7 linked regions of the Homo sapiens genome follow. The protein of the gene in region 1 purifies or fractionates together with the protein of each later gene. This does not show direct contact. Each region holds a gene or a part of one and is shown in the gene's direction. Other genes may lie near its edges.

Region 1 (3,500 bases):
ACGCCTGTAATCCCAGCACTTTGGGAGGCCGAGGCGGGTGGATCATGAGGTCAGGAGATCGAGATCATCCTGGCTAACACGGTGAAACCCCGTCTCTACTAAAAATACAAAAAATCAGCCGGGCGTGGTGGCGGGCGCCTGTAGTCCCAGCTACTCAGGAGGCTGAGGCAGGAGAATGGCTTCAACCTGGGAGGCAGAGCTTGCAGTGAGCCGAGATCGCGCCACTGCACTCCAGCGTGGGTGACAGAGCAAGACTCCGTCTCAAAAAATAAAAAAAGAAAAAAGAAGTATATTTTCACCTGAATCCTTTGGATATTCTTTTTTTCTACCATGAGTTGTCTGAGAACACACTATTTCAAGGTACTGTGTTTAACAAGGACCGAAGAGATTTAAAAGTTGAGTCCTTTCTCCTAAAGAGCCTACTGTCCAAAAAGAGGGTAAAACTAATACAAAAATACCTTTAAGAACTTACACTGGGCTGGGCGCGGTGCTCACACCTGTAATCCCTGCACTTTGAGAGGCCGAGGCGGGGGGATCACAAGGTCAGGAGAGCAAGACCATCCTGGCCAACATGGTGAAACCCCATCTCTACTAAAAAATACAAAAATTAGCTGGGCGTGGTCAGGTGCGTGCCTGTAAACCCAGCTACTCAGGAGGCTGAGGCACGAGAATCACTTGAACCCGGGAGGCAGAAGTTGCAGTGAGCCGAGATCGCGCCATTGCACTCCAGCCTGAAGACAGAGGAAGACTCTGTCTCCAAAAAAAAAAAAAAAAAAAAAAAACTTCATTGTGTTTGGCTGTTCTGGTGCAATGGAAAAAAATTTTTAAATATAGGTTAAATACTGGTCCAGTAACTCCCACTCCTTACTGTGCATCAGGATCATTTGAGTGCATTTTGTGGCTTGTGTGTGTGTGTTTTAAAACATTTGTGCCTTGGTCCCACCCCTAGAAATTCTGACACAGTAGTACAACTTTGTTGCATCTGGAGTAAGGTTTAGAAATCAGAGTATTTTTAAACTTCCGCAAGGTGATTTTAATGAGTCTCAGAGCTGAGAACCATTGAGCTAGATGGGTCATTTATTAAAATATTAGGAAACAGACTTGATGTATCATCGTAGATCTACCCTTAAGTCATGTGCTCCAAAACTCATGCATCGTTCTTTTTTTTTTTTTTTTTTTTTTAATTTATCACTGACTTGGAGCTCACAAAGCCCGTGCATCTAAGAAGAAAAGATGTAAAGGAAGCATATCAGCATATCAGTCTTTGTTGAAGTCTTCTTTATCTTAGTTCTAAAAGGATAGATAGGGAATGGAGGGCAGGGCCTCCGTGTTCAGTTGAGCAGTTTTTTGCACCACACAAAGGTGTCTGGCTGAGTGCTCAAGTGGGAGCTAAAAGCTCTTTTTCCTTCATCAAGCCTTACATGTGTGAGACTTCATCAGCCTATAAAAGGCAACTTTTTTCTCATTGGCACAAAGATACCATATGGACTAGGGATGGCCCTGAAAAATGGAAACACAGTTGTAGATGTTTATATTAAAAAAAATAGCAATAAGCTAATAAAATTCTGCTTTTTTAGCCCCTGTGCTACCGAATTTACTGCTTGTTAGCATTTGGTTGGCTAGATCTTTTAATGTTAATTAAGTATTGCCAGGATGTGGAGGAGGAAATACTGACAAGCTGTACTAGACCCACCCACATGCAGAACAAAAATAGCTCACACAGGAATTACTGATCTTGAGCTTCTTTAATCATTTTAACTTCTTATAGCAAGAAAGTGAACAGTTAGGTCAATTATGACCATCATTGATGGCCATTTTCAGTATCACATAGCAAAAATTGTTAGTATATATTGATTTTCTTTGTTGAACAATTTTTGCAAGATAGAGCTGCTTTTTTTTTTGCCAGCTAGTTTTCCAGCAAGAAAAATTTTGATTTACCACCAACTTCTTTTCATCTTTTCTTTTCTGTAGATAAACTATCTAATGGGGCAGAGAGGGAACCCGTTTGTGAACTATGAAAAATTAGCTTCACTAGTGTCCTCTTAATTTAGCTATTATTATTATTTCCATGAATGTCTGAGGAAAGAGGAAACATGGCCACTTTTGTAAGTCAGTTTGCCAACAGAGCTCGGCCCTTCTGAGCAAAGTGCAGTCCTCAGTGCACACAAATGATAAGTTTTAATACGTTTAATATGTTCATAATACGTTTAATACGTTGAAGATATACAGTTTGAGTTTAATTTGGTTCTTGCACAGCAGACCACTAATGACCATAAATATCTTTGTGTTTCTTTAAGAAAAGGACAAAGAACATGAGGGAAGCATAATATCATATATTTATATCTTGTAAAGACATGAATGAAGGTAAAAACCAAAGGGCAGAGATCTGAAAGTAGGTTTAATTCATGCCGTTGTGCCATTTACCTCAGCAATCAAGATCGGAACATTTCTTTGATACTTCCAATAACGCTCAGGTTTACAGAATGAGGACTCCAATAATAAAATGTTTATTTAATTGATTTACATATAAGCCTGGAGGCAGCCTAGTTTAGAGGAAAAAGTCTGGATTGTATCTGGCTCTTGGGACCTTAGGCAAGTCACTCAGTCCTCTGAACCTGTTTCGTCATCTTGAAAGTGGTGTTCTGAACACTTAGTTTGCAGTGTTGTATATATTAGAAAAGGGATGGTCTAGACTGGAAGAATATCTAAAATGTATCTGAAATGTAGGTGTTCAATAGATGGTTGCTATTTTCATGATTGCATGTCAATGACACCAGAAACTGAACAGTTTGTCAGAACCCTGGCACATGAAAGTATGGTAGGAGAAAAGAGAGAGCAAAGAAAGTGAACTCCAGCCCTGGTTTGTCTGTCCCTAGTGTTAGGGCTGAGAGATTCATGGATGGTCATTTATACCTTCATTCAACAAATGTTGAATGCCTGCTATGCGTTAAAAAAATTAGGCAAGGCCCTGCTCTCATGGTGCTCACATTCTAGAAAGGGGGACATAATTGCATGAATAAAATAATTTTGTTGATAAGTATAATGGATGATTAAACAGGGTGAGTGACAGTAATTTAGGGGTTTTTCAGATTGGAGGGACAAGGAAGACCTCTTTGGGAATGTGGCATTTGAACTGAAATCTGAATGAAGAGAAGGATAGAGGCATGGTGACCTGGGGAAAAGTAGTCCAAGCAGTGGGAACAGCAAATTCAAATGGCCCAAGTGGAAGAGACCTTGACAAGTATGAAGAACAAAAAGCAAGCTGTCTGGTGTGGCTGGAATTAGTAGAGAAGGCAGGAAACAGGAAATGAAGTCACACACACAAGACCAGATCCCAAAGGACTTTTTGCATTTTGTATACCATAGGCCTTCATGCCACTCTTGTGAGTCTGTGCTTCTCAATGTAGATACATTTTACTTCTTTCCTTTATATTTGTAATAAAGACATACTTTTAGAAGGGATGCAATGACAACTGTGAAAATGTATAGAGCTTATTGTG
Region 2 (3,500 bases), on another chromosome or scaffold:
GATGGGGTCTCACTGTGTTGCCCAGGCTGGTCTTGAATTTCCGGGCTCAAGTGATCTACCTGCCTTGGCCTCCCAAAGTGCTGGGATTATAGGAGCGAGCCACCAGACCCTGTCCTTTTCTAGTTTCTTAAGGTGGAAGCTGGGGTCATTAGTTTGAGAACTTTCTTCGTTCCTAATATAGGTGTTTCGTGATATAAATTTCTCTTTAAGTACTGCTTTAGGGATGCTAAAATTTTGATATGTTGTGTTTTCACAGAGAATGGGATCAGGGAAGTTTTCAAAGGTTCTAGTAATCTCTTTCTTAAGCTGGGTGGTAGGTACATGGATACATTTGTTTATTTGTGCATTTATTCTTTATATCATACATATAAATATTCTTTTGAGTATATTCTGTATTTAACAAGGAACTTTTAAAAAATGTGAATGGGAGGTAATGATGTAATCATCTGGTGGGTAAACAACTCTTTGAGCGGTTATGTTGTGAAGTGAAGCAGTGAAAGGGGGTAGTAATTTTAAAATGATGTGAGATAAAAGGGGAGATTGTTTTCGTATTGTTTTGTTTTAAAGCAAGTTTTCTGATTTAAATAAGAGTCATAAACTTTATGAAACCATACAAGTAGCAGATATAAAAGTGATATCCTGATGTGAAATTTGATGTGTTTAACCAAAACTCTTGCTTTAGAATAATACCACTTAAATTTTTTCTTAGATAGCAGTTTGAGTTCTGCTGCAGTACAAAAAACAAATACTTCATTGAGTTCCAAGAATTCCCTATCAAAAACTAGACAAATGATCTTGGTCTAAAGAATTTTCATGTCAGATATTGTAATCAGTTACCTGTCAATATAAATTATAAATACCTCTTAAAAGTAGTCATAAGGCCGGGTGTGGTGGCTCACACCTGTAATCCCAGCATTTTGGGAGACGGAGGTGGGTGGATCACTTGAAGTCAGGAGTTCAAGACCAGCCTGGCCAACGTGGTGAAACCCCATCTCTATTAAAAATACAAAAATTAGCTGGGTGTGGTGGTGCACGCCTGTAATTCCAGCTACTTAGAAGGCTGAGGTAGGAGGATCACTTGAACCTGGAAGGCAGAGGTTGGAGTGAGTCAAGATCATGCCACTACAGTACAGCCTGGGTGATGGAGTAAAACTCCATCTCAGAAAAAAAAAGTAGTTATAAAAGAGTAAGATGAAGGTAAAAATAAATTATTCTTGTTTACCAGAGGGTAAGGAGCAAAATAAGCTGTTTGCAGCCAGTTATCTGTACTATGCCTATTTATTTAATGACATATAACTTCAGGATGTTTCATAAGATAACTGAGTAATTACTAAGCTGTGCAATTTATTTGGTTTCTGTAGATAATAGAACATACTTAAATAGTGAATTGCTTTTCTGTCTCTCTCTCTCTTTTGGTCTTTATGGCATGTCTTGCCAATCATATTTTTTCTCTCCAATAGGTTGTATGGTTCCTGGAGCTGGTGCAATTGAAGTGGCAATGGCTGAAGCTCTTGTTACATATAAGAACAGTATAAAAGGAAGAGCTCGTCTTGGAGTCCAAGCTTTTGCTGATGCCTTACTCATTATTCCCAAGGTACAACTACCCTTTCGGCCAAATAACAACTGCTTAGACATAAAGGTGTTTAATTACAAATTGCCCATATTATCTGATAGTTAATGGAGTAGACAGGTATTTATGTGCATTTCCTTACACAGTTTTCTCTTAGATATTTTACAACTAAAGCAGGGAAACTTTTGCGATAACAGCCCAGGATCCTTGCACGATCTCATGAAATAGCCAACTTACCCCCTTGCTTCTTTCTCTGAGTTCCAAAAATTAAAGCAGCTCCAAAAATTTCCTTCAGAAATGACTCATGATTAACTAATCATAATGAAAAAGTTTAGAATTTAAAATTTAGTTAGATTTTGTGGTACATCTTTGTTTTGTTAGTGGTATCCAAATGTAATCAATTTAAATTGTGGAGAGGGAGGGCTTGAGGCTCTTTAGCACTCCTAGATACAACCTTACATTTGTCATCATCATTATAATTCCTAGAAAAAGAGAAAACAGAATTTTTCCATGTGGCAACCTAAGGACAGAAAGCGACCATTCCTTTGTCTTTGCCTTAATTGGTTTCAAACCACCTTAGAAATATAGTAAAACTACTTCAAAGATGCTATTACCATGAATTAAAACATTATTAACAATGTTAGCAAAATCTCTTTGCTAATTTTTATTAAAATTTTTCATAATTTGTGAAATCTTTGTGAATTAGATTTGCTATTTTTTCTTTCCCCAGAGCAGCAAAGTCAGTATGATCCTGCTGCTGACAGAAATTGGTAACCCCAGTACACATTACATTGGTGGTACCTTTTTCCTCATCAGCTGGTGATTTGGGGCCACTTGGAAGTGAGCCTGGTTTGGAGTGCAGGTATCTCCAACCCTGTTACCACAGGTCGTGACTCTCCTCATGAAGATGAGGGGCACAAAGGTGCTGCAAATATTCTGGTTTCCTTAGCAAGTGCCTATGAAGAACTGGAGGGCATGTGGCTAGCGGCACTAGAGGAAACAAGAATATCATTCTACTTCCTTCCATACTAAAAACAAAACAAAACAAAACAAACCTTTTGCAAGGAGGGAAATTAATGTAGTAGGGTAAAAATGGGGGAACTCTGATGTCCTCAGAATTTAGTGTGACGTGCATAGGGGAAATGTTTAAGTAAATATAAAAACTACTAGATAGATGAAATAATAATTTGATTTAGATTAAAAGTGGAATTCTTCAAAAGGAGATGATTGCCATGTTATGGATGTGTTTTTACAAGAGTAAAGAGTATTTTTATATTTGATATATGTGAAGGTATTATGCATATATATATAATATATATTATTATTTTTATTCCTAAAGGTTCTTGCTCAGAATGCTGGTTATGACCCACAGGAAACATTAGTAAAAGTTCAGGCTGAGCATGTCGAGTCAAAACAACTTGTGGGCGTAGATTTGAATACAGGTAAGAAAGTGAAGGAAAATTAGCTGCTTAATAAAGAGGTTATTCTTTAGTTACCCAGATCTTATGGTAAAGGAGTAGAGGTTTGGGTAACTTTAATATTTAAATTTTGGATGCCTTTAGTTTATTTTTGAGCTTCTTAAAAAATGTTCATTCATTTAAGAAATAGTTATTGAGTGCTTGTTTTCCTCTTGGGCTTCACACAGAACAAAACAGACAAAAATATCTGCCCCTGGGAGCTTATGTTGTAGTGGGAGAAGGTAGGCAGTAAATAATAACTTTAATAAATAAACTCCTTCAGCATTTTAGAAAAAGTAATGAATTATATGGAAAAAAGAGTGCTATAATAATGATCATGAATGCTAGTACAGGAGGGTGGAGAGAGAATGACAGCTTAAAGGGTTGGTCAGGGTAGGCATCATCTAGATGTCTGTTGAAAAAAAGTGGAAGGAAGTGAGGAAATTAGCCATGTAGGCAACTGGGGTTAAGTG
Region 3 (3,500 bases), on another chromosome or scaffold:
ATGAAGTAGGAAAGATAACAGATGAAGGTCAAAGATGGGCCGATCCATGTCTTGGTGAGAGCACAGAAGCTTGTGGGGCATTCTGATACCAGAGCAGGGTTGAGTTCAATCTTGGAGGCCCACCCATTTTCTCACCCTCAAAATGTGTGCAACCCCAGCTGGTCTCCTGAGAGGTGTGATCCAGGCTGCCTGTGTTCCCTGGAGAAGGTGATCACCCTGCCTTTCATAGGATGCAATCAGAACCCATTCCTGGAGACCGTATCCCACCCTACAAAGTGCAATCAGTTGGCCTTTCCTGTTTTCCACCTCCCGCTGCACAGAGCTTCAGTCCCCTGGCCTCCCTCTGCCCTTAGAGTCAAAAACCCCTCACCTCCCAAGGGCTTTTAACAGCCCTGGTGGCCCAGGCCAATGATACCTACCTTGTCCTGATCAGGACTGTAACAAGGGTGGCCTCCCTGGAGGTTGTGACAAATGGGCCTTAATATACACCCCCATCCCTCTGGAGAGGACACAACCTAATCCTGGGTATAACCTGCTTGTCGCTCCCTCTCTTTACCCATGAAGCCAGCTTCTTAAGCTACTTCTCTTCTTCTTGCATAATGGGTGCAATCCAAGAAGCCTTCCCTAAGGCAGTGGCTTCCTTACACCGGACCTATTTATAACCATCCTATCCCCAGCGCTAGAAGAAGCTACTCCACTCGCGCACACGTCTCCCTGGTCTATTCCGGGCAGAGGTGCAATCCAGACAATCTCCCCGATGGCAGGGACCCTGCAATCCGGAATCCATATGTAACCCACCTCCTCTCTCTCCCTGTCTAGGAGAAGCCGACCCCTCCCGCAATGCCCGCCCCGCCGTGCGCCTCCTGCCATGCTGCACGCGCCGCCCTCCGCCGTCCGCTCTCGGGCCAAGCGCTGTGCGGTGCCTGCTTCTGCGCCGCCTTCGAGGCCGAGGTGCTGCACACGGTGCTCGCCGGCCGCCTGCTGCCGCCCGGCGCGGTGGTGGCCGTGGGCGCCTCGGGCGGCAAGGACTCCACGGTGCTGGCGCACGTGCTGCGCGCGCTGGCGCCGCGCCTGGGCATCTCACTGCAGCTCGTGGCCGTCGATGAGGGCATCGGTGGCTACCGGGACGCGGCGTTGGCGGCCGTGCGGCGCCAGGCGGCGCGCTGGGAGCTGCCGCTCACGGTCGTGGCCTACGAAGACCTCTTTGGGGGCTGGACGATGGACGCCGTGGCCCGCAGCACAGCCGGCTCCGGCCGCAGCCGCTCCTGCTGCACCTTCTGTGGAGTGCTGCGGCGCCGGGCGCTGGAGGAAGGGGCGCGCCGCGTGGGAGCCACGCACATCGTGACAGGTGAGCGTAGTACGGGCCGCAGAGCGGCACTCTCCGAGGCAGTGGGGCGAATGCACAGGCGAGGAGGCGGGACCTGAAAGGGGATTCAGGCGCATGCTCCAGAAGGCGGCGAGGAGACCCTGGTGGCTTAATGGGAGGATCCCTGTACGGAGGTGCGGAAGGGCGCATGCTGCAGTTTGGGGCTGGGGCCCTTTAAAGGTTCAAGACGCTGGGGAGACAGAGGGGCCAGGCAGTGATCACAAAGGTTTTTGGGTCTTGGCCACCGTCTTGGTCTCCACAGATTGCCAAAGGGGTGGGAGGTGAAAATCTCTGGAGATCTCTGGTCCTTTACTTATTTTTAAATGTTTCTAACATGCTTGATCTCTTATGGTCCACCTTTCAGAATCCAGCTCTTTCTCTAAAAAGCATCTCCATCTCTTAATTCCTTTTCTTGGTTGGCCTCTCCTCTTTGATAACTTTTTTTTTTTTTTTTTTTTTGAGACAGAGTCTCGCTCTGTCTCCCAGGCTGGAGTGCAGTGGTGCGATCTCGGCTTACTGCAACCTCTGCCTCCCGGATTCACGCCATTCTCCTGGCTCAGCCTCCCGAGTAGCCGGGGCTACAGGTGCCTGCCACCACGCCCAGCTAATTTTTTGTATTTTTAGTAGAGACGGGGTTTCACCATGTTAGCCAGGATGATCTCGATCTCCTGACCTCGTGATCCACCCACCTCGGCCTCCCAAAGTGCTGGAAGATAACTTTTTTATTCTGTCTTTTTCATCCATTCCTTCAACAAACAGATGCTAAGTTTCTGCTATATGCCGGATCCCAACTGTGGCCATACCAAAGTTCTTAACCACTCTGTACTTCTGTTTCACCCCATCCCTAAAACAGGACTATGAATGGTACCCAGCTCATAAACTTGTTATGACAATTAGATGAGTCAGTAGAAGTATAACGTTATCTATATTATAGTTATGTTACATAACCCGTATGATATAATATAGATTACACATTTTATACATGCTATTATCATCATCATTGTCAGGCTAGGGCTGAGAATACAGTTACGCACAAGTTCCTACCTTTGCATGGTTATCAGGTACAAAATTATAAACATTATACATGTTATTGACCATGTATGGACATGTTATGGACTATGTGTACACACAGAGAACCCTATGACGTGGAGGGAGTGGGGTCAAGGAACGGTTTTGAAATCTGAAGGCTCACAGTGAAGAGGTAAAGCGGGTAAGAATTAGGGAGAGGTTATTGGCCTGTGAAAAGCCAATTTGGGCTGCCCCAAGAAGTCCAGTGTGGCTGGAACCCAGAAAGCAAGGGCAGGGGAGGCTGGAGAGGTGGAAGAGGTCAGGCCTTACCCTGTAGGCTGTGGCGGAACCAGTAAAAGTGACATGAAGAGAGTTTCACTTTGAAAAGCTCACCCAGGCCATGGCGAGGAACCTGGGTTGGAGGGACAGGGACAAAGCCGAGGAGACCAGTCAGTGGGAAGCCAGCTGCGGTGATGGAGGTGAGAGATGATGGTTGGAGAGAATCAGCACACTGAAAGCATATGAAGGCAAAAGTAGTTCTGAGGCTGTCATGTGCCACCATGCTAGGTAGGGCCACTGGCTCTGGGGAAGGCTTACTGAGCTTCATTCACTGATGTGGCCCTTTCCTTACTGAGTAACTTTGGAGAAATCCCTAGATCTCTGTGATTGAAAATGGGAAGAATAATCCTTACCATACAAGAGCAGACAGTGTATGGAAAGAATGAAAGGCTTCGGCCGGGCACAGTGGCTCACACCTGTAATCCCAGCACTTTGGGAGGCTGAGGCAGGCGGAATCACAAGGTCAAACGTTCGAGGCCAGCCTGGCCAACATGGTGAAACCCCGTCTCTACTAAGAATACAAAAATTAGCTGAGTGTGGTGGTGGGCGGCTGTAATCCCAGCTACACGGGAGGCTGAGGCAGGAGAATTGCTTGAACCCGGGAGGCGGAGGTTGCAGTGAGTCGAGATCACGCCACTGCACTCCAGCCTGGGTGACAGAGCAAGATTCCAGCTGGGGGAGAAAAAAAAAGAATGAGAGGCTGCCTCGGATTTTAAAGTTAATTTGATAGAATCACTTATTAATTGTACTTCCAAAAGTAATGAAGCCTTCCAGAAAAATCCCTGAC
Region 4 (3,500 bases), on another chromosome or scaffold:
TCTTTTTTTTTTTTCCGAAATGGTATTCCCAAACCTATTCCTTAGGTGGTCTTTTTAAACATATCTACTTGACCCCCCAGGTAGATAATACTTGTCTTAATGTTTTTTTAGGAGCAGCCCAGGGCAAAAGAATTGTGAATTGAGAATTTCTTTGGTGTAAGTTAAATTCTTTTCTTTTCTTTTTTTCAGCCAAATCAAATAGAAAGCTTACTTTTCTGTATTTAGCGAATGATGTCATCCAAAACAGTAAAAGGAAAGGACCTGAATTCACTAGAGAATTTGAATCTGTCCTTGTGGATGCTTTTTCTCATGTTGCCAGGTATGTTGTCTGTTTTTTGGATTTGTTTTTAAATTCATTGCCTTTCCCACCTTTTTGTTCTTTCCTTTTCTGTGATAGCCTTTGTAAATTGACAACTTCCTACTTTACAGAGAGTTGTGGAGGCCGAATTGTGGTTTTATGTTTTGTTGAGCCCTCAAGAACTATCGAGACATGTAAACATTCTGATACATTTGAGAGATTCAGCCTAGCATTATCTTTCTTCTAGATATATTCATTTTCATTTTTTGAATTTATTTCTTGGTTATGGTATTTTCCTTGGTTTGGTTGAGTTGTCTCATCAGCTTATGATCAAAAAACAAAGCTAACTAGTAAGGGAACCTTTTAGTAACATAACTTAATAGCAAGAAATTAATTGCCAAATGCCTTCCTTTTTATTTCCTTCTGGATTTCTAGATGTCTAGTTTACTAAAAATAGTAGGCATTACTGTAACTGCAATAATAGTAATTATTAGTGTAGAAAGTAGGTGTTTGCTCTGGCTATATTGTATTAAGCCTGGTGCTGTTGTGTTTTGTGGCAGAGAGGAGTGGCACTCATACAACTAATACCATAGAAAGCATACATTGGATTAAAAGTTTTATAAATTACTTTACTTCATGTAAAAACAAAAGCTTTCTGTGGGCTTAAATTAGGTGCCCAGGAAAAGCAAAGAAAAACTATCGTTCATTAGAATATTATGTTTATAAGTAAATATATAAACAGATATTTGCAAAAGGAATTGGGAAACATGAATGGGAGACTAGTAGGTTAAACATAAATTGTTACTAGGTCTAAAATATAGTGAAAGGCCTTAAATGAGAAATGAAGTCCTGCTTTCATTGCAGGATTTGAAAAGTTTGAAGGAATAAAATTAGAAATCCAAGAGAAAGAAATGACACCTAGCTTTCTAGAGATGAAAAAGATGGTTTTTGTGGATAAGTTACATAACTGGCTCACCTTTTGATCAACATGGGCGCAAGTAGCAAAATGTGTTATTAACTTGAAAAAAATACTGAATCTTCATAACAGAGTAAGCTTAGAACAGACTACTAGAGGAGCTATCTGAAATAGACAGATTTTCTTGCTTTGATGAGATTTAGTTCACAGTTGCTTAGAAATTGATGGTAGCTCTGCCTCAGACACTATGTGAGTGACCTTGGATGTGTTACTTAACTTTTTGAGCCCAAATTTCCTAACTGGCTAAAGGGGGAGGATACCACTCCCCCTCATAAGAGTTGTGAGGGTAAAGACAGACAATATGTTTAAAAGTATGTAGTACAATGCCTGTTCCACATTTGCTCATTCATTGGATCATTTGTTTTTTCCTATATTCCAGGCACCTAGTAAAGTGTCTGGCACAGAGCTGCTGAGTTATGTAGCTTGAAGGAATACCATTTATATAGCCTCCATGTAAGTGGTGTCCCAGGAGCTGGGCAACATTATGGTCTGCCCTGACACAGTAGGCGTTCAGTAAATATTTGTTAAATGAGTTAATTAATGTTAACTCATTATGGAAGAGATTTGGTCTAGGGAGTTGGCTGGAATGATTTCTTGTAGGGATAGTAAACATAACAGTGTTATTAAAAAATTCCAGCCTGGGCAGCATAGTGAGACCCTGTGTCTACAAAAAATTTTTTAAAAATTAGCCAGGCATGGTGGTGTGCACCTGTAGTCCTAGCTACTTGGGAGGCTGAGGCAGGGGGATTGCTTGAGCCCAGGAGTTCAAAGCTGTAGTGAGCTATAATCATACCACTGCACTCCAGGTTTAGCAACAGAGCATGACCCTGTCTCTAAATTACAAACAGACAAACGATCTGTAATCTTTAGCTGTCCTGAAACCAAAAAGTAAATAGAAAGGGGTGGAAAAGGGGGTGGGCAACACCAGGGTTAAAAATTCCTTTTTTCTTGGGAACACCTTAAAAACTAGCCAGGTTTTAGGTGTCTTGGCAGATTCAGTGGCAGTGTGAGGAAGATAAACCTGGTCCTTCTCAATAAAATAGCCCGAATTCCTTTCTGTTTGCATTCTGGTTCTTTTAAGATTCTGCTTGGGTATTACATTCAGGATACCCATGTTTCCAATCTCCTTTCTTATACCCCATTATTGGGACAGAAAGTCCAACAGTTCTGCTTCAACCGTGATGCAGCTCGTCCACAGTAGGAGTAGCCTAATTAACATATACTTTCTGTGTGCTTTTTCTGTGGTCAGTTGATGAACAAAGATAGTTGACCCATTACTGTTGACTAAATTGATGAGGGATATTTTTATGATAAAAGACACCTCCACACCCAAAACAAACAAACAGTAAAAAAAACTCTCAAGTCAGAGAAAGCTGCCAAGTTCATAGGATAGATTTGATTTGAATAGCAGTTTAATTAACCAGACTGCAAACTTGCTTTTCATACAAGTGCCTTGTTTTCTTCCCAGTGAGGAGACAGCTGTCCATGTCATTTTTCATTCAACATGTATTGGAGTGCCTTCTATGTGCCAAGTATGGATCCAGACACGGGGGGAGCAGCAGTGAACAAGGCAGGCAAAGACAATTAAATGAGCAAGATACTTTCAGAGCAGGACAATATGGACATAGTAAAATGGAGTGATGTTCTAGAGTAGGATCTCACAGGTAGTGTGGTTCAGGAAGGCCTCTAAGGAAATGACATTTGCGGTAATCATGCGAAGCGGGAGCAGCTATTAAGAAAAACTTAAGGCAGAGATCATCTTGGCCTTCTAAGAGAAACAGAATGAAGGCTGGTGTGGTTAGAATATAGTGCACAAAGGGAAAAGTGATATCCAGATGAGGTCCGAGAGGTGGACATGCAGCAGTCACATACACCCTGTAAGTCTTGGAAGTTAGGATTTTTTTCTCATGGGATGTCATTGAAGAGTTTTAACCAGGGGAATGATATATTCCAATATATTCCAACATACATTTTTAAAACATCCCTCTTTAAAAATGGCTTAGTGTAGAGGGATGGATTGTAAAGGCCAAGGGAGGGGCGGGGACATGAGTTTGGAGGATATTGCTGTGATGCAGGCTAGAGGTGACATTGCCTAGGACTCAGAAGCAATGGGAAGATACTAATAGCTTCCATTTATTGAGTGCTTCCTTCGTGGGAGGATCCCCACCTCTCCAGTGTAAAACTGATAGGATTTATAGGCGTTGAGTGGGAGCTGGTAGTAAGTGA
Region 5 (3,500 bases), on another chromosome or scaffold:
AACTGAGTATCTGTTTTTGTCATCAGAAGTGGGACATTTAGGAAAGGGCAGTTGTTTTCCTGTAACAGTTTTAGTAAATATGAAAATAACCCACAATGTGGGAAGAAAACTTTGTAGACAAGCAATTAAGAAAATATTCAATAATACATTTTAATCCGATTTTCAAGTATGCTAACATTTTAGAAAATAAACGACGAAAATGGGATTAGGGCAACTGTATTTTATATCTTTGAAGCCTGAAATAGATTTGTAATTACTTCACTAATCATCACATTTTTCTAAAGCTGATGGAACAACAGCATGTAACTCTTTTGCTTTACTTTGTACTGGACCAGGCTCTCAGTGTTAAATTTTTGGAAAAAAATCATGAGTAGTGGAACATATATAATGATAATATTATATGCATTACATGAAAATAATCATAAAGAGACTGTTATGTGGCTTTCAAGGTCAGAACTTTACAAATAAATACTAAATATATGTATTGAAGTTTTCAGTGTTTACTGACAATTTTCCTAAATCTTCAGAGCCTCTGAGGTCAGTAACTTTTTCAGTTCATTAGTCATTTAATCAGTCATTAGACTGAGAAGGCAAGTTTATGCAAATCTTCTGGTTGTTTTTTGAGATGGAGTCTTGCACCGTCGCCCAGACTGGAGTGCAGTGGGGCGGCTCACTCACTGCAAGCTCCACCTCCCGGGTTCACGCCATTCTCCTGCCTCAGCCTCCCGAGTAGCTGGGCCTACAGGCACCTGCCACCACGCCAGGCTAATTTTTTGTATTTTTAATAGAGATGGGGTTTCACCGTGTTAGCCAGGATGGTCTTGATCTCCTGACCTCGTGATCCACCCGCCTCGGCCTCCCAAAGTGCTGGGATTACAGGCATGAGCCACCGCGCCCGGCTGCAAATCTTCTGTATTTTAATCATAACCATGTCCACTATATATTCCTTCGGATAACTAAAAATTAAAATATTTGGTGTATTATTTGCAAGGAGTCAAAGATGATGTCTTTTCCCAGAGGCATGAACCTTAGAAATGCTTTCGATGGGGATGTTTCTGTAACACTGTGTTATTCTGGATCTTCAAATAATAGCAAAGCCAGTTACTCTAAATGTAAAATTTTTCTATTCCCAAGGTTCACTTTTGTTTGGTAGGTTTTCACGATTTTAAATACTGTTTAATGGAAGAAAAATACGTAGCCAGGCGTGGTGGCTCACACCTGTAGCCCCGGAACTTTGGGAGACTGAAGCAGGCAGATCACGAGGTCAGGAGATTGAGACCATCCTGGCCAACAAGGTGAAACCCTGTCTCTACTAAAAATACAAAAATTAGCTGGGCGTGGTGGTGCACGCCTGCAGTCCCAGCTACTTGGGAGGCTGAGGCAGGAGAATTGCTTGAACCCGGGAGGTGGAGGTTGCAGTGAGCTGAGATCACGCAGTTGTACTCCAGCCTGGTGACAGAGTGAGACTCTTTCTCAAAAAAAAAAAAAGTGTGTGTGTGTGTGTAGAGAGTTTGTGTGTGTGTGTGTGTGTGTAGAGAGTTTATGTGTGTGTGTGTGTGTGTGTGTGTGTGTGTGGAGAGAGAGTTTATTTGGGCCAAAATAGAGGACTGCAACCTGGGAAACACATATTCAAGTTGCCCTGAATATATGTTCCCAAGTTCAAGAAACTTGAAACTTGTTTCTTTCTGATATTTTCCACCTATTTGGACCAAATAATGAGCTGTGTTTATTTTGTAATTACAAAATTTGCTTATATAAAACTACAGAGGAAAACATTTTTATTTGGGGCAACAATGAACTGCTTTTATAAATTAATTTAAAATATGGTTAATATGGTTATTCTCCCCACACCCTAACTATACACCTGTATTCACTTGACATGAACAAACTGCTTTGTGTTTGGGATTCAGGTAAAAGGTGATTTTTGCATTTTCTAGTAATAGTTTAGAAATCTTTTCATGTCAGCATCTTGAAATCTACCTCATTATTTATTTATTTATTTATTTATTTGGGAGACAGAGTCTCGCTCTGTCTCACCCAGGCTGGAGTGCAGTGGTGCGATCATGGCTCACTGCAGCCTCAACCTCCCAGACTCAAGCGATCATCCCACCTTAGCCTCTGGAGTAGCTAGGACCACAGGTGCATGCTACCACTCCCGGCTAATTTTTGTATTTTTTGTAGAGATGAGTTTTGCCATGTTGCCTAGGCTGGTCTCGAACTTCTGGGCTCAAACAATCCACCTGCCTTGGCCTCCTAAAGTGCTGGAATTATAAGCATGAGCCACTGTGCCCAGCCTAATTTTTTTCATAATTTACTTTTTCTCTGGAGCATAGATTCAAAATGCCCTGAATATATGCTCTCTACTTCATTCTTTTAATAACTATACAGTTTGCTAATGTTACGCTGGAGTATCCCAGTGCTTAAAAATATAATACACTTGGCTGGGTGCAGTGGCTCACGCCCGTAATCCCAGCACTTTGGTAGGCCAAGGTAGGAGGACAGCTTGAATCCAGGAGTTGGAGACCAGCCTGGACAACAAAGTGAGACCTGTATCTACAAAAAATGTCAAATTTTTTTTTTTGAGACAGAGTCTCACTCTGTCGCCCAGGCTGGACTCACTGCAATCTCCGCCTCACGGGTTCACGTGATTGCAGTTTTAGTAGAGACAGGGTTTCACTATGTTGGCCAGGCTGGTCTCGAATTCCTGACCTGAAGTGATCCACCCACCTTGGCCTCCCAAAGTGCTGGAATTACAGGCGTTAGCTGCCACACCAGGCCCCAAAAATGTAAAAATTAGCTGGGCATTATGGCATGCACCTGTAGTCCCAGGTACCCAGGCACTTGGGGGCACAGGTGGAGGATTGCTTGAGCCAGGGAGGTCAAGGCTGCAGGGGGCTATGAGTGTGCGACTGCATTCCAGCCTGGGCAACAAAGTGAGACCCTGTCTCAAGGCAAAAAAAAGAAAAAAAGGGGGGCGGGGGCTGGGTGTGGTGGTGGCTCACGCCTGTAATCCCAGCACTTTGGGAGGCCAAAGCAGGTGGATCACTTGAGTGCAGAAGTTTGAGGCCAGCCTGTGCAACAGGGCAAAACCCTGTCTCTACAAAAAAATGCAAAACTTAGCCGAGAGTGGTGGCATGTTCTGTGGTCCCAGCTACTGTAGAGGCTGAGGCGGGAGGATCACTTGAGCCTGGGAGGTCAAGGCTGCAGCGAGCCGTGATTATGCCACTGCACTCCAGCCTGGGAGACAGAGCAAGACTCTGTCTCAAAAACAAAATCAAACAAAAAAACACACCACTTATTTGAAATAAAATACTGTAATTGGCTCTTACCTGCCCAAGAACTAAAAGGTCACACAAAATTTGAATAGATCTTTTCATGTATATTTCTTAGCCACCTCATTAGGAAATGTTTTAAAGCTGAATTATATTTTGTATCTGGGATCCCATTTATAGCCCTAGAGATGATGTTATTCTTCTGAAATACTAAAAGAGGCCAGCTGT
Region 6 (3,500 bases), on another chromosome or scaffold:
ATGTTTAAACAGAATTTGGGACATACAGTAATTCAGTTGGGAGAACTGAAATGTCAGTTCTAGTTTAGTATATGTATCTTTGAGTCCCTTTTAAAATTTTTCTTTGTAGGATATGCCTTTCACCTGTGAAGGTATCACCCCTGATATCATCATCAATCCCCATGCCATCCCCTCTCGTATGACTATTGGTCACTTAATTGAATGCCTTCAAGGGAAGGTAAGAGATGTTCTTCAAAAATATAGATTCTAAGCTGATGCTTCTTCTAAAACTCTGATAGGTGATTGCTCTCACATTTGAGCCAGGGTACTTTGTAAAAAGCTAGTGTGAGACTTACTTTTCTGCTTTCAAATTGCTTATGATTCTGCCATTTTTTTTGGCAATTTGCAAAGTTATGGACAAGTCAGAATTTTTGTGAGATATACTACATTCAACTAATACATATGTGATTTTCCTTTTGACTAGTTCTTTTCTGTAGATGAACAGTTAATTTGTTGATGGAGAGTTCAATGTGAACTTAATAATTTTATAGTTCTATTATCAGCTCTGCATACATCTTTTGGTGGAGGTTTTCTATTTTTAAGTATTCTTTTAAGGTAAAGTGGTAATAGTCTAACATATGGATGGCTTGGTTTTAGGGCATTAAAATGTCATTTTCCTTTGAGCCATCTGAAGTACTTAGGAGTCTCACTCTTTTTGTACCTGATCCCATGGATCGACTTCTATTTGAATACTTATAATTGAGTTTTTCTTTTTTAAGCAAGTTTATTTGTTCTAAATGTTTTGTGTAAGGTTATAAAATGAACCTTATATATCACAGCTTTCCATAACATAGATTTTGAGTTCAAAATCTTTGAATTTTAAAATACTTAAAATAATACTTTCAAATTTTAAAAGTATTTAAAAATTTTTTGAATGCATTTTTATTGATATGACTTTTAGGGGGAGACAGACTGAAGCAACATTTTAAAGAGTACTTTTTTTTTTAAAAGGTATCGGCTAACAAGGGTGAAATTGGTGATGCCACTCCATTTAATGATGCTGTTAACGTGCAGAAGATTTCTAATCTTTTATCTGATTATGGCTATCATCTCAGAGGAAATGAGGTATATTTGCTCTTATAGTAGTAATTTGCCACTTGTTTTTTTTTGTATGTGTGTAGTTTTATTCTGAAACAATGTAACCTTTTATTGAAGTATCATATGTGCACATATAGAAATGTACAGCTTGATGAATTTTCACAAAGTAAACACAGCTGCATGACTAACACCAAGATCTAAAAATGTGAAGGTAGCGACTGAACCTTTTTTAGTCGCTACCTTTCCACTCCCACCCCAAGCTAATTACTCTCTTAATTGCTAACATTATAGATTAGTTCTGTGCTTTAATTTTTATATAAATGGAGTAACACAATATATACACATATCTTCTTTGACGTTGTTTAATTTTTAGGTCTACACTTCAAAATCTGTGTTTGTTGCAGGTCCTGTACAATGGGTTCACTGGTCGAAAAATCACATCACAAATATTTATTGGCCCCACTTATTACCAGCGTTTGAAGCATATGGTGGATGATAAGATTCACTCTCGTGCTAGGGGACCTATTCAGATCCTCAATAGACAGCCCATGGAGGGTAGATCTCGGTAAGAACTGTATCATCATCATTATTATTAATTAACCTTATATTATGAAAAATGTCAACACACCAAAATGGAGATAGTGGTATAGTGAATGCCTGTGTGCCTGTTACCCCCATTTCAACAATTATCGACTGATGGCCAGTCTTGTTGCATTCATCTCTGTCCTTCTAACCTTTGATATTATCATCATGTTTTAAAGGCAGAGTCTCACTCTGTCACCCAGGCTGGAGTGCAGTGGCATGCCCACAGCTCCCTGCAGCCTTGAACTGGGCACAAGCAATCCTACCTTAGCCTCCCAAGTAGCTAAATTAATATTGTCTCTTAAGTCCTTTTTTGAATTTATTGGTTGTCCTCCAACCTTTTTTTTAACTACAGGCATGTGCCACTACACCTTTAAAAAAAAAATTTTTTTTTTGTAGAGGCTAGGCGCAATGGCTCATGTCTGCAATCCCAGCACTTTGGGAGGCCAAGACGGGTAGATCACCTGAGGTCAGGAGTCCAAGACCAGCCTGGTCAACATGGCAAAACACCGTCTCTACTAAAAATACAAAAAATTAGTCGGGCATGGTGGCACACACCTGTAATCCCAGCTACTCGGGAGGCTGAGGCATGAGAATCACTTGAACCTGGGAGGCGGAGGTTGCAGTGAGCCGAGATCACACCCCTGTGCTCCAGCCTGGGTGACAGAGTGAGACTTCATCTCAAAACAAAAAACAAAAAATTTTGTAGAGACGGGGGTCTCACTATGTTGCCCAGGCTGGACTTGAACTCATGGCCACAATCCTCTAGCCTCAGCCTTCCAAAGTGTTGGAATTACAGGCGTGAACCACTGCACCCAGCCCTCTTGATTATTTTTAAGCAAAGCCCAGACATCATATAATTTCTCCTATAAATTTTTCAGTGTATATCTTTAAAACAATGGTTCTCAAATGTCTTGATCCCGGGAACCCAAAATGCTTTTGTTTTATGTGAGTTGTATTTATTGATATTTATCATATTAGAAGTTAAAGCTGAGATTTTAAATTTATTGTTTTAAAAATGCTAATAAGCTCATTACGTGTTAACATAAATAACATGTTTTGGCTGGGCGTGGTGGCTCACACCTGTAATCCCAGCTACTCGGGAGCCTGAGGGAAGAATTGCTTGAACCCAGGAGGTGGAGGTTGCAGTGAGCCAAGATCGTGCCACTGCACTCCAGCCTGGGCGACAGAGTGAGACTCTGTCTCGATAACAAAACAAAACAAAACAAAAAACCATGTTTAATGAAAAATATATCTATTTTCCAGATGAATTTAGTGACAAGAATAACATTGGTTTACATTTTTGCGAATCTCTCTAATGACCTGGCTTAATAGAAACAGCTGGATTCTTACATCTACTTCTGCATTCATTCCATTGTAGTATTTTATTTTTTATATTTAAGTATATGAGGAAGTTCTAATTTCATGCAAATAAGTGGTTGGAAAGAGAGGAATATTTTGGCTTTTTTTTTGTGAGACAGTCTCACTCTGTCACCCAGGCTGGAGTGCAGTGGTGCGATCTCGGCTCACGGCAACCTCCGCCTCCCGGATTCAAGCAATTCTCGTGCCTCGGCCTCCCAAGTAGCTGGGATTACAGGTGTGCGCCACCAAGCCCAGCTAATTTTTGTATTTTTTGTAGAGCCAGGGTTTCACCATTTTGCCCAGGCTGGTCTCAAATGGTTGGCCTCAAGTGATCCGCCTGCCTTGGCCTTCCAAATTGCTGGGATTACAGGCAAGAGCCACCACGCCCAGCCCACCCCTTCCCTTTTTTTGAGACAGTTTCATCCCTGTTGCCTAGGCTGGAGTGTGGTGGCACAATCACAGCTCACTGCAGCCTCTAC
Region 7 (3,500 bases), on another chromosome or scaffold:
GGCCTGTCATTGACCAAAACACTGTAATGTGGGACATGACTGTATTTGCTTAGTCATGCTTTTTTTGTTGTTTTTTTGTTTTGTTTTTGTTTTGTTTTTTTTGAGACAGTATCTCGCTCTGTCACCCAGACTGGAGTGCAGTCCCATGATCTTGGCTCACTACAACCTCCATCTCCTGGGTTCAAGCAATTCTGCCTCAGCCTCCCGAGTAGCTGGGATTACAGGCGGGCACCACCACGCCCAGCTAATTTTTGTGTTTTTAGTAGAGACGGGGTTTTTCCATGTTGGCCAGGCTGGTCTCGAACACCTGACCTCAGGTGATCCACCCTCCTTGGCCTCCCACAATGCTGGCTGGGATTACAGGCGTGAGCTACTGCACCCAGCTTGTATTTGCTTAGTTCTTTTTTTTTTTTCTTTTTTTGAGACAGAGTCTCGCTCTGTCGCCCAGGCTGGAGTGCAGTGGCTCGATCTCGGCTCCCTGCAACCTCCACCTACTGGGTTCAAGGGATTCTCCTGCCTCAGCCTCCTGAGTAGCTGGGATTATAGGCGCCCGCCACCACACCCGGCTAATTTTTGTATTTTTAGTAGAGACGGGGTTTCACCATGTTGGTCAGGCTGGTCTCGAACTCCTCACCTCATGATCTGCCTGCCTTGGTCTCCTAAAGTGCTGGGGTTACAAGTGTGAGCCACTATGCCCAGCCAGTTGTTTTTTGTTTTGTTTTGTTTTGTTTTGTTTTGTTTTGTTTTGTTTTTTTGAGATGGAGTCTCACTCTATTGCCCAGGCTAGGGTGCAGTGGCGCAATCTTGGCCCACTGCAACCTCTGCCTCCTGGGTTCAAGCAATTGTCCTGCCTCAGCCTCCCAAGTAGCTGGGATTAGAGGTTTGCGCCACCATACCTGGCTAATTTTTGTGTTTTTAGTAGAGATGGGGTTTCACCATGTTGGTCAGGCTGGTCTTGAACTCCTGACCTCAGGTGTTCTGCCTGCCTCGGCCTCCCAAAGTGTTGGGATTACAGGCGTGAGCCACCGCGCCTGGCCACTTAGTTCTTATTTTCACATTCCAATTCCACCTTTCCCCCTCTCTCCCTGAGCTTTCAGCACAATTTTTGTTTTCTAAGGTCATGTTAACTCTGGGTCCTTAGGCCTCAGGCTGTGTTTTCTTGTCATTGCCCCATCACCAGCATCTCTCGTGCAGGGCAAACTGCAGGCTGCAGCACACCAAGCATGTTTTCATTTTGATGTGGCTGTTCTGCTTTGTGTGGGCCCTGCTTCTCTTACCACCTGGTTCTGGTCATTGCAGTGGCCCAGCTGTTGGCCTTTTCTCTTAGCTCATGGTTGAGGTGTGGCCTGAGGGTTTTGAGAGAAAATGATCAAACTCAACTTTGTGTTGTAGGTGCTCTGGGACCTGGAGTTCCCCACATCATCAACACCAAACTGCTGAAGCACTTTACTTGCTTGACCTACAACAATGGCAGGTCAGGGGGTGGTTGCTGGGATTTTTCTTGTGCAGGAGAAAGTAGGTGGGGGTTGGGAGTGAGGAGCAGGGGCTTGGACTCAATTCCATGTCCACGGAGATGCAGTGCTGAAAAGACTGCTGCCATTTGGAAGGCTCCTGGGGCCCCAGTAAGTTTAGCAAATGCTAAATATGACATACTCTGCCCTTCTTAGAAAAGTATTACCTTTTGGGAACCTTAGAAGCTCTGGGAAGTCCTACAATAAAGACTTGTTTTACTTCACATACTTTTGAATAGCCCTTCCCGATGTCTCACAGAGCTGGTGTTCTGCGGAAAGGCAGCATTGCAGAAAAGGGCAGCCCAACTCGGTGACTCTGGGGAAAGACCCGCAGGCCCTGCCCCTGGGCTTCCTTCCTGCCATTTGCATGGCGTGTGTTTTCTGCTCTTGAGTGTGCTTGGAAGAATCAGCACAGCTGATTTCGGGATGATTGTTTTCCCAGCAGCCCTGCTGGGCAGGCGGGGACAGACTCACAGGGCCCTCACCAGCTCAAAGCGCTAGCAGTGCCCAGGTAGAGTGTAGGCCCAGCTTTCTCTATCTGCCTCAGAGGGAAACATGGACTGGCACACTGCTCCACTGTGTGTGAGGCCCAGGAACCTTGGAAGGGCAAAGTCACCCACATTCCTTTTCCTTTCCTGAAGTTGGGAAGACATTCCGTGCATATGAGAATAGGATTGGATGTTCTTATTTTGCTTTTGGAGAAATTGTCTGAGAGTTTAATTTTGTTTCTCCTTTATTGCCACTGATTTTCTAGATTACGGAACTTAATTTCGGATTCTATGAAGGCGAAGATTACTGCATATGTGATCATACTTGCCTTGCACATACATGACTTCCAAATTGACCTGACAGTGTTACAGAGGGACTTGAAGCTCAGTGAGAAAAGGTGAGCACAACAGAATAAAGAGCTCCCTGCAGGGTGTCTCGATGTCTTATTTCTGGTACCACTGGAAAGCATGAGGCACCACCAAGGGAACTGAGGATGTTTAAATGTGGGAACAACTTGGAACTAAAGGACTATTTTCAATGAATGAATCATTGACTGAATGAGCAACTAGACATTACTGAGTGCCTTCTCTGTGCTAGATAAATTATGTCATTATCTCACTGATTTCCCTAGAAAACAATTGAAGAATCAGGCTCAGAAAAGTACGTAACATTCTCAAGGTTACACAACCAAGAGGGGAGTAGTTGGCCTTGAGACCTGAGCCTTTCCATAACATTCTGTTCTGAATAACCAGGCAGCCTCCATTCTCTGAATTGCTGTCACAGGGGAGAGGGATTCTGTATGGTTCTGAGGAGTGCAGCTCAGGGTGGAAGTTGTAGGACAACCCAATTTGAGCTTAGTAAGAAGAGCTTCCTCACAATCAGATGGAAGGGTTTGCCAGGGGAACCGCTGGTTCCAAGGCCAGGTGGAACTGCTGTTTGGCAGGGATTTTATGTTTGCACTTCTCTGACCCAACTGGGAGAGCTGGTGGTGGAGGTGACCTTTTAGGCTCCATCTAGCCTTGTAGAGGAGATTCAGACAGTAGGGGCAGAGCTGCCCAGGAACCTGAACTGTGAGGTCAGCTGATCTTTGTCAGTGATTTAGGGGCATCTGACATCCAGTGGCCCAGAGGGTGTCTAGGAGAGCCTGTGAACACACCTCTGTCTGGACTCTCTAGCAGTCCGTGGAGGGACTGTTCTGAGGGCTGTCCACAAACTGTGTTCCCACAGGCAGTGAGGCTGAAAAAAAGAGAACAGGTACTTGGAACCTGTCAGATTCTAGCAAGTGCTCAATCCTGGTTGCTAAAAGTTTGGTTATGGGAGGTAAAGAAAGTTGCTCACGGGGCTGTAGATACCCTGGTTTTTCATCACCCATATGGATCTTTTGAAGGGCATTAAAATGAAATTGGCTGTCTGATGGTTCCCAGCGGGTGAGGGGACCTTGCCTGCCTCTCTGCCAGGGGCTTTGTGCCTGCTGGCAACCTTTGGGATTCTGTCTTTATG

The links.
Region 2: the proteins of DNAAF10 (region 1) and CCT6B purify together in Homo sapiens (affinity purification with mass spectrometry, with the first as the bait; 2 studies listed by BioGRID). This does not show direct contact.
Region 3: the proteins of DNAAF10 (region 1) and CTU1 purify together in Homo sapiens (affinity purification with mass spectrometry, with the first as the bait; one large-scale study listed by BioGRID). This does not show direct contact.
Region 4: the proteins of DNAAF10 (region 1) and RPRD1B purify together in Homo sapiens (affinity purification with mass spectrometry; 2 studies listed by BioGRID and IntAct, with this or other methods). This does not show direct contact.
Region 5: the proteins of DNAAF10 (region 1) and DNAAF2 purify together in Homo sapiens (affinity purification with mass spectrometry; one large-scale study listed by BioGRID and IntAct). This does not show direct contact.
Region 6: the proteins of DNAAF10 (region 1) and POLR2B purify together in Homo sapiens (affinity purification with mass spectrometry; 3 studies listed by BioGRID and IntAct, with this or other methods). This does not show direct contact.
Region 7: the proteins of DNAAF10 (region 1) and POLR1E purify together in Homo sapiens (affinity purification with mass spectrometry, with the first as the bait; one large-scale study listed by BioGRID). This does not show direct contact.

The regions. Positions count from the first base shown.
Region 1 is NC_000002.12:68,151,028-68,154,527, reverse strand, and holds part of DNAAF10 (dynein axonemal assembly factor 10), read left to right. Parts: intron 1-3,500. UniProt on the Homo sapiens protein: Key assembly factor specifically required for the stability of axonemal dynein heavy chains in cytoplasm.
Region 2 is NC_000017.11:34,930,461-34,933,960, reverse strand, and holds part of CCT6B (T-complex protein 1 subunit zeta-2), read left to right. Parts: intron 1-1,460; coding exon 1,461-1,594; intron 1,595-2,909; coding exon 2,910-3,012; intron 3,013-3,500. UniProt on the Homo sapiens protein: Component of the chaperonin-containing T-complex (TRiC), a molecular chaperone complex that assists the folding of proteins upon ATP hydrolysis.
Region 3 is NC_000019.10:51,101,910-51,105,409, reverse strand, and holds part of CTU1 (cytoplasmic tRNA 2-thiolation protein 1), read left to right. Parts: intron 1-819; 5' UTR 820-840; coding exon 841-1,348; intron 1,349-3,500.
Region 4 is NC_000020.11:38,040,246-38,043,745, forward strand, and holds part of RPRD1B (regulation of nuclear pre-mRNA domain-containing protein 1B), read left to right. Parts: intron 1-189; coding exon 190-319; intron 320-3,500. UniProt on the Homo sapiens protein: Interacts with phosphorylated C-terminal heptapeptide repeat domain (CTD) of the largest RNA polymerase II subunit POLR2A, and participates in dephosphorylation of the CTD by RPAP2. Transcriptional regulator which enhances expression of CCND1.
Region 5 is NC_000014.9:49,628,745-49,632,244, reverse strand, and holds part of DNAAF2 (protein kintoun), read left to right. Parts: intron 1-3,500. UniProt on the Homo sapiens protein: Required for cytoplasmic pre-assembly of axonemal dyneins, thereby playing a central role in motility in cilia and flagella.
Region 6 is NC_000004.12:57,023,896-57,027,395, forward strand, and holds part of POLR2B (DNA-directed RNA polymerase II subunit RPB2), read left to right. Parts: intron 1-109; coding exon 110-217; intron 218-990; coding exon 991-1,104; intron 1,105-1,481; coding exon 1,482-1,642; intron 1,643-3,500. UniProt on the Homo sapiens protein: Catalytic core component of RNA polymerase II (Pol II), a DNA-dependent RNA polymerase which synthesizes mRNA precursors and many functional non-coding RNAs using the four ribonucleoside triphosphates as substrates.
Region 7 is NC_000009.12:37,499,448-37,502,947, forward strand, and holds part of POLR1E (DNA-directed RNA polymerase I subunit RPA49), read left to right. Parts: intron 1-1,392; coding exon 1,393-1,474; intron 1,475-2,265; coding exon 2,266-2,397; intron 2,398-3,500. UniProt on the Homo sapiens protein: Component of RNA polymerase I (Pol I), a DNA-dependent RNA polymerase which synthesizes ribosomal RNA precursors using the four ribonucleoside triphosphates as substrates.